2 separate regions of the Homo sapiens genome follow, and region 2 is linked to region 1. Evidence: fine-mapped expression QTL. Tissue or cell type: whole blood. Region 1 holds a variant in brackets; the other region holds the start of a gene. All regions are shown on one strand. Distances are from middle to middle.

Evidence for each region. PIP is the estimated chance that this variant, and not a neighbour inherited with it, causes the effect.
Region 2: it holds the start of TNFAIP6, and the variant in region 1 is fine-mapped to the expression of TNFAIP6 in whole blood (TOPMed, PIP above 0.99).

What each region holds. Positions count from the first base shown.
Region 1 is chr2:151,137,425-151,145,533 of GRCh38, reverse strand. No RefSeq gene overlaps it. Among named protein-coding and RNA genes, the nearest start is that of RBM43, 120 kb to the left of the region's middle. The variant T/G (reference allele first, on the strand shown) is at 3,380.
Region 2 is chr2:151,353,104-151,361,212 of GRCh38, reverse strand. It overlaps TNFAIP6 (TNF alpha induced protein 6), which reads right to left and starts at 3,621. Exons shown (of 6, transcript NM_007115.4): 1 at 3,453-3,621. The coding sequence starts at 3,546. The region is part of intron 2 of LOC101929319 (a long non-coding RNA gene); the gene reads left to right.

The sequences.
Region 1 (8,109 bases):
TTTTGACAAATTGTGTGATGACATGTACTTGCCATTACAGTATCATGCAGAATAGTTTCACTGCCTTCAAAATCCTCTGTGCTCTGCCTATTCATCCCTCTCCCGACCCCAGCCCCTGGAAACCACTAATCTTTTTGCTATCTCCATAGTTTTGTCTCTTACAGGATGTCATATGGTTGGAATCATACAGTATGTAGTCTTTTCAGATTGCTTTCTTTCATTTAGCAATATGCGTTTGAGATTCCTTCATGCCTTTTTATGGCTTGATAGCTCATTTCTTTTTATTGCTGAATAATATTCCATTTCTTGAATCTACCACAGTGTATTTATCCATTCACTAACTGAAAAACATCTTGATTGCTTCCAACTTTTGGCGATTAAGAATAATGCTGCAGGTTTTTGTGTTTTTCATTCATTTGGTTAAATTCCAAGGAGTGCAATTGCTTGATTGTAGGGGATGAATATGTTTAGCTTTGTAAGAAACTGCCAAACTGTTACCCAATGTGGCTATAACATTTTGCATTTTCCACTAGCAATGAATGAGAGACTCTGCCTTTCTGCATCCTGACCAGCATTTGGTGTGTCAGTGCTTTAGATTTTAATTATTCTAATAGGTGTGTAGTGGTATCTCATTGTTTGAATTTGCAATTCCCTAATGATATATGATGGTGAGCACTTTTTTTTGATGTACTTATTTCCCATCCATATATCTCCTTTGGTGAGACTTTAAAGAGTTTTTAAGTGAATTACATAAAACAATACAAATCAATTACTGAGTATAGCACCCAACATACAGTAAATTCTCCATAAATATTACCTTTTCTCATTATTAGAATGCTGAAATCATCCTGGGAAATCCACCTGAAGAAGCTGGCAGGACACCTCATCTGCATTCTTAGGAAATGATATCAGTCTTTTTCTAAAAAATCTCTAATTGAGGAAAAACCAACACACTCTGGTATCTCTCAGCCTTCTCTGGGGGAAGTTCCTCCCATGCTAGAAAAGAGTAGACAAGGGGGCAAATTAGACAAGGGCATTTTAAAAACTGGCGGATTACTTGAACTGTTTGGGAACCTTCATAAGATAAATTTGAGTCCCATACTGATTTTGATGTACATGATAGGGCTAAAGAGTAAAGATTTTTATTTTATTTTATTTATTATTATTGTCTTTTTTGAGATGAAGTCTCGCTCTGTCGCCCAGGCTGGAGTGCAGTGGCGCGATCTCAGCTCACTGCAAGCTTAGCCTCCCGGGTTCACGTGGTTCTGCTGCCTCAGCCTCCCGAGTAGCTGGGACTACAGGCGCCCACCACCACACCTGGCTAATTTTTTGTATTTTTAGTAGAGACGGGGTTTCACCGTGTTAACCAGGATGGTCTCGATCTCCTGACCTCATGATCCACCTGTCTTGGCCTCTCAAAGTGCTGGGATTACAGGCATGAGCCACCAGGCCTGGCCTTTATTTTTTAAAGACAGGGTCTTGCTCTGTTGCCCAGGCTGGAGTGCAGTGGTGCAATCACAGCTCACTGCAGCTTTGACCCCTTAGGCTAAAGCAGTCCTCCCACAATAGCCTCCCAAGTAGCTGGGACCACAGACGTGTGCCACCGCACTCGACTAATTAAAAAAATTTTTTTTTTGTAGAGATGAGGCCTCCTTATGTTGCCCAGGCTTCTCTTGAACTACTGGGCTTAAGTAATCCTCTCGTCTCGGCCTTCCACAGTATTGGGAATACAGGTGTGAGCCACTGAATTTGGCCATGAGTATATACTTTTAAAATGCACCAGGTGTCTGAACAATCTGACTACATGATATGTCCATGACCATACAATTTATCATTTAAGCTAATCACTTTTGCGAGTGAAAGGTACTATTAACAATTTACTCAGGACAATAGATGAACACAAGGATAAGCTGGGCAGATGTCCTGGGGAAACTGGGATATGTGTTCTCCCTGTGTGTAAGTCTTTTCTTGACTTTAAGGTTCTAAGAGTATAGTAATAAATCCAACAGAAATGCTTCCTAATGTGCTTTATGAGTATCTTGATATTCACTCTAATTTTCTAGAAAGAAAAAAGTTGGGCTTATATTAATATTGATAGATAATATTGAAAAGGAAAAAGTAGGAAAAATTAAAAAGGACCCAACAAGGTAGACCTTATTAGAATTTCAACCAAAGAAATTCAGATTTTCTATTTATGTTGAAAGTGGCAAAACCCATAATACTCAACTGAAATTAATTTTATATTAAAAAGAAGAGCCATTTTTACTTGTTTGGGGTTTTCAAAGGTGGTAGTATCTGGAGTGATATTTTAATGAAAATATAGCCTAATGTAAATCTTCTTTGCTTGACTTGAACAGACTTGAAAGAAAGCCAAGTGTCAGACAGAGGAGGATGTCAGTTTCTGTGGCACCCATGGCAATTCAGATGCAGGGTGCAATGTTAAAGTCTACACCTCTACATAATTCTTGGAGGCTTGCAAAAGAACAAACGAGCCAATACTTGTTGAATACATACAGTTATTTCAAGCACTGAGCTGTTTTATAGTCCTCCATCAAATAAAATAGACATTCTGATCCATTTTATGGATAAGTAACCAAAGACTTGGAGGCGTTAAGTAGCCTGCCTAAGGTTACACAAGTGGTAAGTGACAGAGACTAGATTTGAAACCCCGTGTGTCAAGGGTCTTTCCTCTATATCAGCCTTGCTGCTTCAATTGTAGAAAAGTATCCATTTTGTTGTAGTGGAGGTCTCAGCTGAGCTGAGGTCACAATTCAGAATTTACATGGGCCTAGTGAGTTTATTGGTGGAAACCTGAAGACAAATATTTTGAGTTTTTGTACTGGGGGCCAGGAATTTTCATAAAGTAGACTTGTGTGAATATAAGGACAGAAACAAATGGTGTTGAAGGCATTATGACATTAATTTCTCTACCTGGTCTACCCTCTATGGAGAGATAATCTAAAGGCAGAAATACATAAGCTGTTTCTATGAGGAACTTTATTTATTTGATAGCATCTTATTCTGGTCACCCAGGCTGGCGTTCAGTGGTGATCATTGTTCACTGTCACCTCAAACTCCTGGGCTAAAGTGATCCTCACTCCCCAGCCTCCAGAGTAGCTAGGACTATAGGCACACACCATCACACCCAGCTAATTTATAAATATTTTTGTAGAGACAAGGTCTCACCACGTTGCCCAGGCTTGTCTCAAACTCCTGGGCTCAAGTGATCCTCCCGTCTCAGCCTCCCAAAGACCTGGGATTATAGATGGGAGCTATCCTGCTTGGCCTCATGGGAAACTTTTTTATTGTCATATGAACGTAGTGTGACAAGGTCAAAGGCCAGAGGAGTAAACAGGGACTAATTTGTGAAGGGCTTTGG[T/G]GCCAAGAGAGAGGGTTAGTACTCCATCCTCAGAGCAATAGGAGTTGGTTAAAAGAATTGAAGCAGGGGAATAAAATAGCCATCTTAGTGCTTTTTGAAGATCACTGTGTTTGCAGTGTGGAGAATGGCAAAGATGAGTAAGAATGGCGAAAGGGTGCTGTCACAGTTGTGTGTGGGAATAATGAGTGTAGTCTGAACTATAGGTGGCAGTGGAGATAGGGAAGAGTGAATAAATTTAAAAGATATCAAGTAGGTAAAATGTGTAAACTTAGGGATTGATTGGTTGTGGGGGTAATAAAGAGGGAGGAATCAAGGATGACTCTCAGATCTTTAGCTTGGAATACCAGATAGTTGGACTGCATTTATTGAATGGTGGCAGGTTGATAAGTTCAGTTTCAGACCAAACATATTAAGTTTGAGGTACTCTGAATGGTTCACATGAAGGTGACCCGGAAGCAGTTGAATAAAAATGTCTGGAGCTTGGGAGAGAAATCTGGGCTGGAGATATTGATATGGGAGATAATAACATATGGATTGTAAATTAAGTCATGGAAGTAGCTGATATCACCTTGTAAGAATATACAGAATGAGAAGAGCAGAGAGTCTAGGACTAAGCCTGAGGGAGACAGGGTGGAAGAAGGCAGCTTTTGTAGATGATTAGGAGGGAGGGGCTATGGGAATAGGAGGGAAGCCAAAAAAGAGTGGTGTCATGGGGGTCAGGGAGAGTTTTAAGGCAGGTGTGACCACCTGGGTTTGGGACTGACAGGAGATCAAGCAAGATAAAGACTGAAAACTGCTTATTAAATGTAATACAATTTTTATTATTTATAGGGACATATATTAACAAAGTTTGAATACCACAGTTTCCAATTTGGAATGCTACTTTGGCAGTGTTTACCACTTTTAAATCTATTCACGAACTGGAAATTCTGGGTTGTGGAGAGAGAAAGTATAATAAGGAACCATTTCCAAATAGCATCTTAGGGGAAGGAGGTTAGTCCTGAAATTAGGTAATGCATGAGTAATTGATTAATGGTATGTATTACATAGAGCTTGTTAATTGTTGAGCGGTACTTATACTCACTGCAATCAGTTTTTCATTATGTTCATATGTATCACTCATATGGAAACGCAACACTTCAAGATGTGTTGTTAGCTCAATTTTCAGGGCATGTGTTCAGTTGAGAAACTGTCTGCTGTGGCAGCAGCCCCCATAAGGACCATGACGACAGTTTCACTGCAAAATAGCACCCCTTTGACCCGGACATGTTTCAGGAAATGGCTGGTCACAGAAAACGCTCTGCCCCTAACACTGAACGATCTTTCCTCCTTTGAAATGTTCCTAAATTACTCACTTGTTCCCTTGCCTATCAAAATCTGCCAAATGTACCTGAAGGCCAATTAGGGTCTACTCCACTTCCCAAAGTCCCACCTTCACACAACGCTTGCCCACCAAATGCTGTCTCCTTGGCATTTCCTCTTTCTACTCTAAAACGTACTCTCCTCTCAGACACTCTGAACCCCTGCTGAAAGGAAAGTGGCTGCAGAATAATTCCCTTGCTACAGTTTATGAATAGATAGCTTTTTATTTTTTATTTTTTTATTTTTTATGTTTTTGAGACAGAATCTCGCTCTGTCACCCAGGCTGGAGTGCAGTGGCGCAATCTCGACTCACTGCAAGCTCCGCCTCCTGGGTCCACGCCATTCTCCCGCCTCAGCCTCCCGAGTAGCTGGGACTACAGGCGCCCGCCACCACACCCGGCTAATTTTTTGTATTTTTAGTACAGACGGTTTCACCATTCACAGGATGGTCTCGATCTCCTGACCTTGTGATCCGCCTGCCTCGGTCTACCAAAGTGCTGGGATTACAGGCGTGAGCCACCGTGCCTGGCCGATAGCTTTTTAAATCTTGTCTTTAGGTTTTGTTGGATGTAGGTTGAAAAAAATGAACTTGATTCTTCTCCAAATCAACCTAAGTGCTATTTCATGCCCCCTTTTCAACTGATAGTATACAATGGCCCATTTTGGTCAACAAAGTAATTTAAGGTTCAAACTCAATCAATTCAGGATTTTTCTCTCTGTTCCCCTCACACCCTGGCTCTGGTGATATAAATGCATTCTGAGGTATTTGTACAGAGTCTTGGCACTGCAGGAGTGAGTGAGGCAGGCCTTGGGAGCATTTTGTTCCAATGCAGGGCTGGGACAGGCCCCTGGGGCTGGAATTCAGGGAGGCAGGTGCAGGGCAGGGAAGTGAGGGCCGTGAGCCTGCGGGGCTGTTGGGGAGCTAACATTTTCTCTTTCTGGATCTATCAGCTAAACAGGTGTGTCTAGCTTGCAAAAATTCATCAAACTGTACCCTGGATGCATTTTTTCTGACTATATATTTCATTAAAAATAAAAAAATATATATACCATTCTTAGGGACAGAGAATTTCTGCTATAAGATCTCTGTTTTCTCTCTGTCTCTGTGTCTCTATCAGTAGAATTTGTTGTTCTCTAATAGGTAAACAAATGCTAAACCTCAAGTTATTTTTATTTTTATATTTTATAAGGTATTTATGTATAAATATATTTAAATTTATAGATATAGTTCAACCTAGTTGTCCAAAAATGGCTGACTGCACTTTGAACTAACTGAAACTTCTTTGGGTAAACTTCAGTTGTACAGAGTTGTTTCATGTAACTATGTTCTAGACCCAGCCTTAAACTCTAGCCTTGGCCGCAGCTACGCCTGTTGTAGATGAATATTAAAGATCTTGATGGGCTTTGTGGAAGTCTGTCGTAACAGTGGTTTGGGCCAAAATCTCTGCTTTGGGCAGTAGAGAATTTGGCTTGGGCTCCTGGTGTGATTGTGCTCAGATGGTTGCTTGGGGGCCCTATGAACAGCAAATCCCTGGTGCCTTCAGGCCTTTGCACAGTCCTTTTACTATCTTTAGGAACTGATTTGAGGTATTTTTTTAAAAAAAGTCCCAAACGGCAATGACTTTTGCACCAACCTATAGCAGGAACCTTATAAAAAGACCATCAAATACTTCATTTTTCTCAGAAAAATGAATGGAGGCAGAAATTAATTGGATGGAGAGAATTGACTAGGCCTGAAAACACTTAAGATAATTTTACATAGAGTTGGTCTACTTTTCTAATTTTCATAAACCAAATTAAAGTGGATTTCATGACACCTGTGGTTTTGAAAACTTATTTCTTAGGATAAGTATGTATTAAATAGAATTAATACTATTGGCCTGTTTAGACAAAAAAAATCAATTAAGTGAGAACAAAAATTAGAGTCTATAGACAAAACAACCGGCTGACTGACTTACTCTTCACTTAGCTTTTGGTCATTTTATAATGATTGAGCCTTAAAATCACATTGCTTAATATGCAGTCCTCAAAATGTTCTTAATTAAGCACAGATGCACATTTTGCATTTCCAGCTATGCTTCTGCCTTCAAGTCCATTGCTTATGCCAAACAAAGCAGAACATTCCTAGAAATACGAACCTTATATGGAATAGTTTATGTTCTTTACATTTTTCCTACCTCTGTGATTCATACATCTTAATTATGACAGAAAAATATATTTGGAGAAGGTCCTGTGTGCCCCATGGTATTACAATTACTTAGTACTGCTAATTATTAATGACCTGTATTATAAATGTTTTTCAAAATGGTTTCTTCTTTCTTAACTCTTTGCTATAACAGTCCCCCAAATTGTGCCTCTCCTGGGAGGTGGGGTATGTCTGGGATATGTGATAGATTGGAACCGCATGGGCTCTAAGACAACATTTCTGGCTGGCTGGCACAAATTCGCCCCAAAATATAGTAGTAATGTCTCTGGGTTCCTATAAAAGGGGGTAAAGTTATACCAACCTGTTTTATGAGACTGTTGGGAGAGATAAATTGTTAAGAGAAAGTATAATGACAACAATATGTATGAATCAATCCCCTGAAACATAGGAGTTTAAATGCATTCTACAGATCAGGTAAATAACTGGTTACCCAGCTATGTAACCAAAGAAAGCAAATGTCCACTTGAATTAAGGATAATGAGAATAACATATGCATTAGAGAAACATACCAATCAGGTAGGTGGAATTCGCTTTCCTGTATTTGAAAAGGTTAGCAGGAAATGTTAACTATGTAATTGAATATATTGTAGCAGAAATGAGGGATGTAATGTTATTATAATTGATCACAAAATATCTATAGGCAGAAATAAATAAGGCTGCTCACCAGTGGCTTTTCAATCTGCCTCGGAAAGCTTTATGATAATTTGCTAGGAGAAAAACCTCTGGTCACTATTGATTAATAATGCATTTACAATATTTTTCTGAAATATTTTCCTGCTTTATGTCTGTTAAAGTAAATGCAGCTGATGACAATACATCTGAGAGAAAACTTGCAGGAGGCCAATCTCAAAGGAGCATTAACAACAATTCCATCCAGGTCTGGAGCCTCCAGACATTGGAACTGTGTCCTAGTTACACGAAAAGCTCTGCAAGTGTGGAATTCCAAAATTGTATAAATGTTTTCTTCCCAAAACATCTTTTTTTTTTTTTTTTTTTTTTTTTGATACGGAGTCTCGCTCTGTTGCCCAGGCTGGAATGCAGTGGCATGATCTCGGCTTACTGCAACCTCTGCCTCCTGGGTTCAAGGGATTTCTGGGTAGTTTTTGTATTTTTAGTGTTTTTGTATTTCACCATGTTGGCCAGACTGGTCTCAAACTCCTGA
Region 2 (8,109 bases), 220 kb before region 1:
GTCCCAGCTACTTGGAAGGCTGAGGCAGGAGAATTGCTTGAACCAGGGAGGCAGAGTTGCAGTGAGCAGAGATCATGCCACAACACCCCAGCCTGGGCGACAGAGTGAGACTCCATCTCAAAAAACAAAAAAACCAAACCAAAACAAAACAAAAAAATTAACAGATTTAAAAAAATAATAATTTTAAGTTTTCCTCCAAGTAATTTTTCATTTTTTAAAAATCTTTTATTTTAAATTCGGGGGTACATGTGCAGGTTTGTTACATAGGTAAACTCACATCACAGGGGTTTGCTGTACAGATTATTTCATCACCCAGGAATTAAACCCAGTACCTCTGTTCCTCTCCCTTCTCCCACCCTCAGTAATTTTTCTTAAACTTTTGGTACCTACTGAAACTTGTCTAGTAATAACATAATAACAGAAATAGCAAAAAATTTTTGTTATAATTTCTGATTTAATTTATTAAATATTAACATTCCACATTGTTCCTCTAATAGCGCCAAACTTCCCAGTATGTTGCCATATGAACAAATAGAGAACTCTTGGAGTATGTACCTGACAATTTTAAATAAGGTGTTTTATTAAAAATATTTCTCAATTCAGAATTTTGAGCTATTAAGATGGACCTTTGTACAATGAATCCTAATTTTACCTTTCAGAAGCAATAATATTTTATTAATTTATCTAGTCAATAGTCATTTATTAAAACTGAAAATTTGTTTAATAAATGTTTTCTCCTTTTAGTGAGTGGCGGCAGTAGAAATGGACTTTGGTTCCACTGCTGTTTCTACCATGGAGTTGTATAACCAGATGAGCCTCAGTTTCCTCATTTGTCAAATGGGACTAATGATAGCTTCTGGACCATAGAAGGAACTCAAGATACGTCACTTTTCCTTTCTTTCTTTTTTTTTCTCTGAGACAAGGTCTCACTCTGTCACCCAGGCTTGAGTGCAGTGGTGAGGTCACGGCTCACTGCAACGTCTGCCTCTTGGGCTCAAGTGATCCTTCCACTTCAGCCTCCTGAGTAGCTAGGACTACAGGCATGCACCACCACACCCAGTTAATTGTGTTTTTTTTGGTAGAGACAGAGTTTCTCTATGTTGCCCAGGCTGGTCTTTTTAATTCCTGGGGTCAAGCAATCTGCCCACCTCAGACTCCCACAGTGCTAGGATTACAGGTGTGAACCACTGCATCCCACCTTCCTTTCCCTTCTTTTTCAGATTCAACAATAAAAATAATTGCTTATCTGTGCATTTTTTATTCTCATGATCCATGTAAAATGATTGTAATTTCTTGTCCTTAACTGTGGTTTGTTTTTGTTTTAAGTACTATTTTAAAAATTAGATGATACCAGAGTTAAAATAAGCCTTAGGGATCCTTTACTTCAACCTTATCATTTTACCAGATTGGAACCATAACCTAGAGAATTTAAAGTAAACTTGTCCAACTTGCGGCCTGCCAGGACGGCTTTGAATGTGGCCCAACACAAATTTGTAAACTTTCTTAAAACATTATGAGTTCCCTGGGCCAGGTGCGGTGGCTCACGCCTATAATCCCAGCACTTTGGGAGGCCAAGGTGGGCGGATCACGAGGTCAGGAGATTGAGACCACCCTGGCTAACATGGTGAAACTCTGTCTCTACTAAAAATACAAAAAATTAGCCAGGCGTGGTGGCGGGTGCCTGTAGTCCCAGCTACTTGGGAGGCTGAGGCAGGAGAATGGCGTGAACCTGGGAGGCGGAGCTTGGAGTGAGCCGAGATGGTGCCACTGCACTCCAGCGTGGGCAACAGAGCGAGACTCTGCCTCAAAAAAAAAAAAAAAAAAAATTATGAGTTGCCCAAGACAATTCTTCTTCCAATGTGGCCCAGGGAAGGCAAAAGATGGGACACCCTAGATTTAAAGTGTCCTGTTCTTGATAGTTGCTAACAGATGTATCCCTTCTAATCCAACTATCTTTCCTTCCTAAATGGTTTCTAAAAAGATTATATTGATCCAACCAACTATAAACATCTGTGCTAGGCTGGCTGGTCAAAAATTTGCCCCAGATTGAAGCAATTTGCAATTATCCTGACCCTCAGATTTGTAGCATACATTAATAGACGTTTGAATTTGCTTCTCTCTACCTCTGGGGCAAAACTTCTATTGTCCAGGTTTATATTTTTGTAACATATGACAACACTTTAAAAGACAACTCTAAATTACTTGATTATTAGAGGGTTTGATAATATTTCAAAGTTTATCTGCCTGGATTTAATTCTTACTAGCTTTATGACATTTAAAAAAAATCCTGACAAATATGAGTGTATTTCCTATATTTGACTGTATTCAACTAAAATAAAGAGATGGGCTCATTCCTCTACTAAATTTCAGATCCCGTCTTGGCCAAATGGATCACAGTGAAATTAGTTCACTGGCTCAAGCTGAAAAAAATAGGCGGCAAGGCTGTGCATTACAAATTAGGCTTTTTAATGAAATCCGCATGGTTGCAGTTATTACCAGAGAGAAACATGCTGAAAGGGAAAATATTCTACAACTGTGCTGTTTAGAAAGCATAAAATCAAAATCTAGGTTAATTTCGCCTTCTCTTTATTTCTTTATTCTATGCAAGAATCTATGCATTTTTCCCCAAGAAATTCAATTTTTTTTTACTATTAAACACAATAATGAACATAGAGCAATATCAATTTGTATCATGAGAATTAAAGCATTGTTTAGCATACTGTAATCTAAGGGGTGTTTTGGATTTTCTGCATTTTCCTTTTTTGATCTATTGTTTATCTTCACTGTTTGGCCTGTCTCATTCCTTACATTTAACAAAACAAAATAACAAAAGAAACTTTCCTTGTCTAACAAAAGGGTCAGAAAAGTATTTATATGGATAGTAGAAACAGAAAGAATCAAAGTGGTAAGAATGCATTCAGAAGGAGAAACATTTTTCACTTTTTTCTGTACTGCAAGCTGGCTTGGTCAAAATAGTCAAAATGTTTGAAAAAACTAAGATATAGACTATAGCTCAGAGTCCATGAAGCAATTATTATAAAATTTTCGTAGACTCCAATTTACCTGTTAGGATTCTGAAATCTGATTGCAAATGCATTGACATAAAAACAGAAGACTATATTGGAGTTTCTAGTTGGTTAAAGAAATACTCCTCACTGTACTACTACATCTGCTTTGAAAAGTTTAAAAATATATTTTCATACTGAATATAAATATTAACTGCTATTTTCTACTGAACAATTCACTTTATAAAATGCTATTTTTAAATTTTAGAGGACAAGAACGCTTAAAAAAAAAAAAGCGTATGTATTCCAAAGGCTATCTTTCCTAAGCATTTTCTTTGAGAACATCAGCCTTGTACAGAATAGAAAAAGTTACTGCTTTAAATTTCCTTCTCCATGATTTAAAGAATTGACATTCTCAACAAGAGGCTCATGAGTGAAGGTTCTTACCAAGCCATATGGAGTTATGAAAAATTCCATCCTTGAATCCCCATCCTTGAGTGTCTTCCCATAGCAAGAGAAATAAGTAAATTAAGATGATCATATCGTCAGTTGTAGTGAAGTAACAGCCTGTTAGGGGCTGCTCACAAATTCTCAGAGCAGTGGCTGAAATGTGACTGAAACATCTGGTTTCCACATCTTTTAAATAGTTTTTTTCAACTGTGAGGTCAGCAAGTACTCTCCAATGGCATTTTCCGCTGTAGAGTTACACAATTATCTCAGTGTCTGAAGCAAATCCTCTGACTCATTTGCATTGGCAACCAAAACTAAGGAGATAGAATGATCATCTATGTTTTAAAATTAACTTACTAAGAACGGAGTTCATTTATTGTTAGTCACAAACACTTTTCTGTTAGAAAGTTTGTGTAACTTGATGCAGATTTAGCAGTGATTAAAAGAAAATCGAACTTCAGTAGGAATTTCAAGATAAATCCTAAATGTCTTATTTGCAGTGTCAATTATGGGATATGGGGTTAAACACTAATCTTTTATTGGTAATGTTGGACTGGCTTTTCTAAACATTGTCAAGCCTGTGTAAAAAATTTAAAACAAAAAGTATGCACAGCTTGGAGAATCCTAATTTTTCTCCAGTGATATATGACTTCCTTATTCTCTGCCTGCTTTTCTTCCAGGGTGGGGTCTGTTGCAGTCTTTGGTGTGTTATGGTCAGCAGCTAAATAAATGTATCAGCTCCCAGAAAAGTATTTCAATTTCAGAGCGTCAGGATGTTCCAGCAGCTTTGGGATGTCCTATTATAACACAGTTTTCCCAGGCCACAAATTCTTGAAGTGTTGGGAGAAAGGTGGGTAGACTAACAAAGTTAATAAAAACTTGTCCCTAGCTTCCCTAGACCACTCTAACTTTGAAGAAGACGATCAAGGTAATAGATAATAATTATTACAGTAAAGTCATCATGTCTTCAAATATCCCAAACTTTCCTCTTCCTTTGTGTAGAATCCTTGGGTAACATATCTGATAATACTCCCACTACCGCTGATGCTAATGGCATTTCCTATTGTTCATTGATAGCCATTTATTGGCAACTTTTGATTTTTTTACAAAATTGGTCATTTTTTGCTACTTAGATTCTCTACTTTTGGTCTCAAATTGCTTCCCATTCACTCCTATTATAGCATTCATTTCTCCCATGCTTTCTTAGTCCCTCCAATGATGTTGGAGTTCTTTGAAAAAGCCAACTTGCTAGACATGCTCTGGTTTGAAGTTAGCTTTGAATCCCTTAGACATCTTTGCTTTGAACATCTCAGGTGTGTTCTGGTCTCATCTCTTCTCAAAAGAGCAGTTATGGGGATGTAGGCTGAGAGTACAGAATTTATTGGATGCTCACTGAGGTATACATAAAGTTACTAGCATTGAAAATCTTTATTTTGGACTGGTGGCACATGAAAGATGAGGGAATTGTATCCAAGTTCACAGATAGGGTTAGTGAATTTAAGTTTGTTGCAAAAGAGAAAGGTATAGTTTAGACCAGGTGGGTGTGACTATGGAGAAGACAGGCATGGTTACTGAGAGCAAGATTCATAGGTAGTTGGAAGGAATAAACCATGATATTTCTTTGGAAAGTATAATTATATGCGTATTTTAAGTTTGTGGTTTAGGAAGTAAATATAACTTTAGTTGTGCAGTGCTACAGCAAAACCTTCCCATAGTCTTTCCAATTCTTTTCTTGTCACATCCTCCAGCTGTGCCCTTTCTGCATCTCTCTCAAGCACCTAATTTCCCCCTAGTTCTCATTTATCAAAAATTACTCTCAGGAAAGGGTTTGCAATTAATCTTTAGTTAGGCCAGATAACTAAGAACAGATACCCTTCTGTGTTCATTTGCATTTTAATGAAGCTCCAAGTAGAGCGAAGTGTGAATGTTCAACTTCTTTTAACACGAAAATTTAATGAGTTGCTTTGATGAATTAACCCGATCTGGGGTGGAGGATTTCTTTCTCCCCTCTCCCAACTCTCATGCAGAATATAAATATTTCCCCTTACCTCTGCATAGTGTCTGAAAATCTCATCCTCCATATCATCAAGGAAATAGAGAATAATGCCTAATGATGTAAGTTCTGATTTTGAGGGGCATTCAATAAAGGAAAGAGGAAATGGGGTTTTCATATGGAAAAGATGCAGAGGGTAATCCTGAGGACGAGAGAGAAGAAAAGAGAGAGTAGCAAAGGAAATGTTGCCTATGAACTTACCTTGGAAGTTGTCTAAGAAGCACCCTCTGCCCAGCCTCCAGCACACACCACCCAGGATAAGCCTCATGAGGAGCTGAGAGAAGATACACTGATAAAAGTTCCTTTCAGGCCGGATGCAGTGGCTCATGCCTGTAATTCCAACACTTTGGGAGGTCGAGGCAGGAGGATCACGAGGTCAGGAGTTTGAGACCAGCCAGACCAATATGGTGAAACCCCGTCTCTACTAAAAATACAAAAATTAACTGGGTGTGGTGGCTTGCTTCTGTAATCCCAGCTACTCAGGAGGCTGAGGCAGGAGAATCGCTTGAACCCGGGAGGCGGAAGTTACAGTGAGCCAAGATCGCGCCACGGCACTCCAGCCTGGGTGCCAGAGCCAGACTCCATCTTAAAAAAAGAAAAAAAAAGTTCCTTTCAAGGTTCTGGAAGACTTAACCAGTCAAGTATTTTGCCTTCTCAGAGGAATGCCCTCCCCTTCCACTATCTCTGGGTCAAGATGTGCAGTGGCTCCTTTCGCACATATCACCACTAGCTGAAAACCCAGCAAGACTGCTTTTTGTAGAGGAGTTCCTGTTTTGGTTGCTTTTCTACAATGTTCCAATGCCCGTAAGCCTAAGCAGCTATTAGATACCTAAAGGCATGGTGGAGAGAACTCCATATCTGAATTGGGATAGGGCTGCACTGAACAAGCTTAAGATCTCTTAAGCTGCCACGATAGTTAATGATGTCACTATTGCACAAAGTTAACTGAAAAAATGAGACACTAGCCAGTGTGGTGGTGTGTGCTTGCAGTCCCAGCTATTCAGGAGGCTGAGGCAGGAGGATCACTTGAGCCTAGGAGTTGGAGGCTTCAGTGAACTATGATCATATCACTACACTATAGCCTGGGCAACAGAGCGATATGCTGTCTCGAAAGAAAAAAAACAGCAAGAGAGACGCTAAAGTAGAATTTTAAACATCTATTAGCAGTTAAGAGGAAATATTTTATATCCTTTTGACATGCTGAGTCTCAGCTGACAGGAAAAAGGGATGGAGAAGTGTCAGGTGAATATAGACAGGAGAAAAAGAAAGAGAGAAGGAAAACAGGTTCTAAGACAACATGTCTGATTATACTTAAGACTGGATTTGAATGGCAAGATGTGCAAAAATGCAATTCTTTGATACACTGTATGAAAATTAAAATATAAATTATATCCTTTATTAAGCATATGTTGCAATCTTGGAAAGAGCAGGAAAAAAACCAAGATGAGATTAGCAAAGGGTGGAGCTCCGTGAATCACAAAATATGTCAATACAGGACATTTTTAACACTGCCAATAAGGACATAAAATTGCAATACAGGAATGCCCCACCCATCCCAGAATCTCCACATGGACTAGGATAGGAATAAAAGCAATAAATGAAGAAAAACCCATTCCCCTTGAGTGTGACTTAAAATGATTGGAGAGAAATTCTTATGTGTGACATAGAACATACTTAAAGAAATGAAACATGTGGCATTGTACTCGTTCATTCAATAATCAGTGCAAACTTTTACAGGGTCAGTGAGCAGGATAGAGCCTAACTAGAACAATGGGAAATCTTTGGAAAAGTGAAATATTTATTTATTTATTTTTTTGAGACAGAGTTTCGCTCTTGTTGCCCAGGCTGGAGTGCAATCACAATCTCGGCTCACTGCAACCTCCACCTCCCAGGTTCAAGCAGTTCTGCCTCAGCCTCCCGAGTAGCTGGGATTACAGGCATGCGCCACCATGCCCGGCTAATTTTGTATTTTTAGTAAAGATGGGGTTTCTCCATGTTGGCCAGGCTGGTCTCGAACTCCTGACTTCCAGTGATCTGCCCACCTCGGCCTCCCAAAGTGCTGGGATTATAGGCATCAGACACCATGCCCAGCCTATTTAATTATTGTATATCAAAAAGCTTTGAGACAGTGAATATGAGCCTATGTACAACACCGAATGGAATAATGCACTTTCAAGTTTATGGGTAAACAGATGTCAGAAAGAGATCCAAAATTGATGTCGGACTTCCAGTTGTTAATGCAGTGTGACAGTTGTTAGTAATCTTCACCAAATATTTCCAGCTTGTCAACTTCCAGCAAACATGATAGCATTGTATGTGTGTCCCTCTGTGGTTTGGTGGAACCATGTGATTATTTTTGGCTAATGAGATGTGAGCAAAAATTATGTATGTCATCTTAGAGTGAGAATTTGATTGCTAATGCTCCAGAACTCTTTCCTTCTGGCATGGCGGGAAACATTTGTGATGACAGCTGCTCTTTCACCCTGATTCCAATTGATCCCTGGATTTTATATAACATGAATGAACTATAAACTTTTGTTATTTTACGTTATTGAGATTTTGGGGTCATTTATTACTGCTAGCATAACAATCTATCCTGAT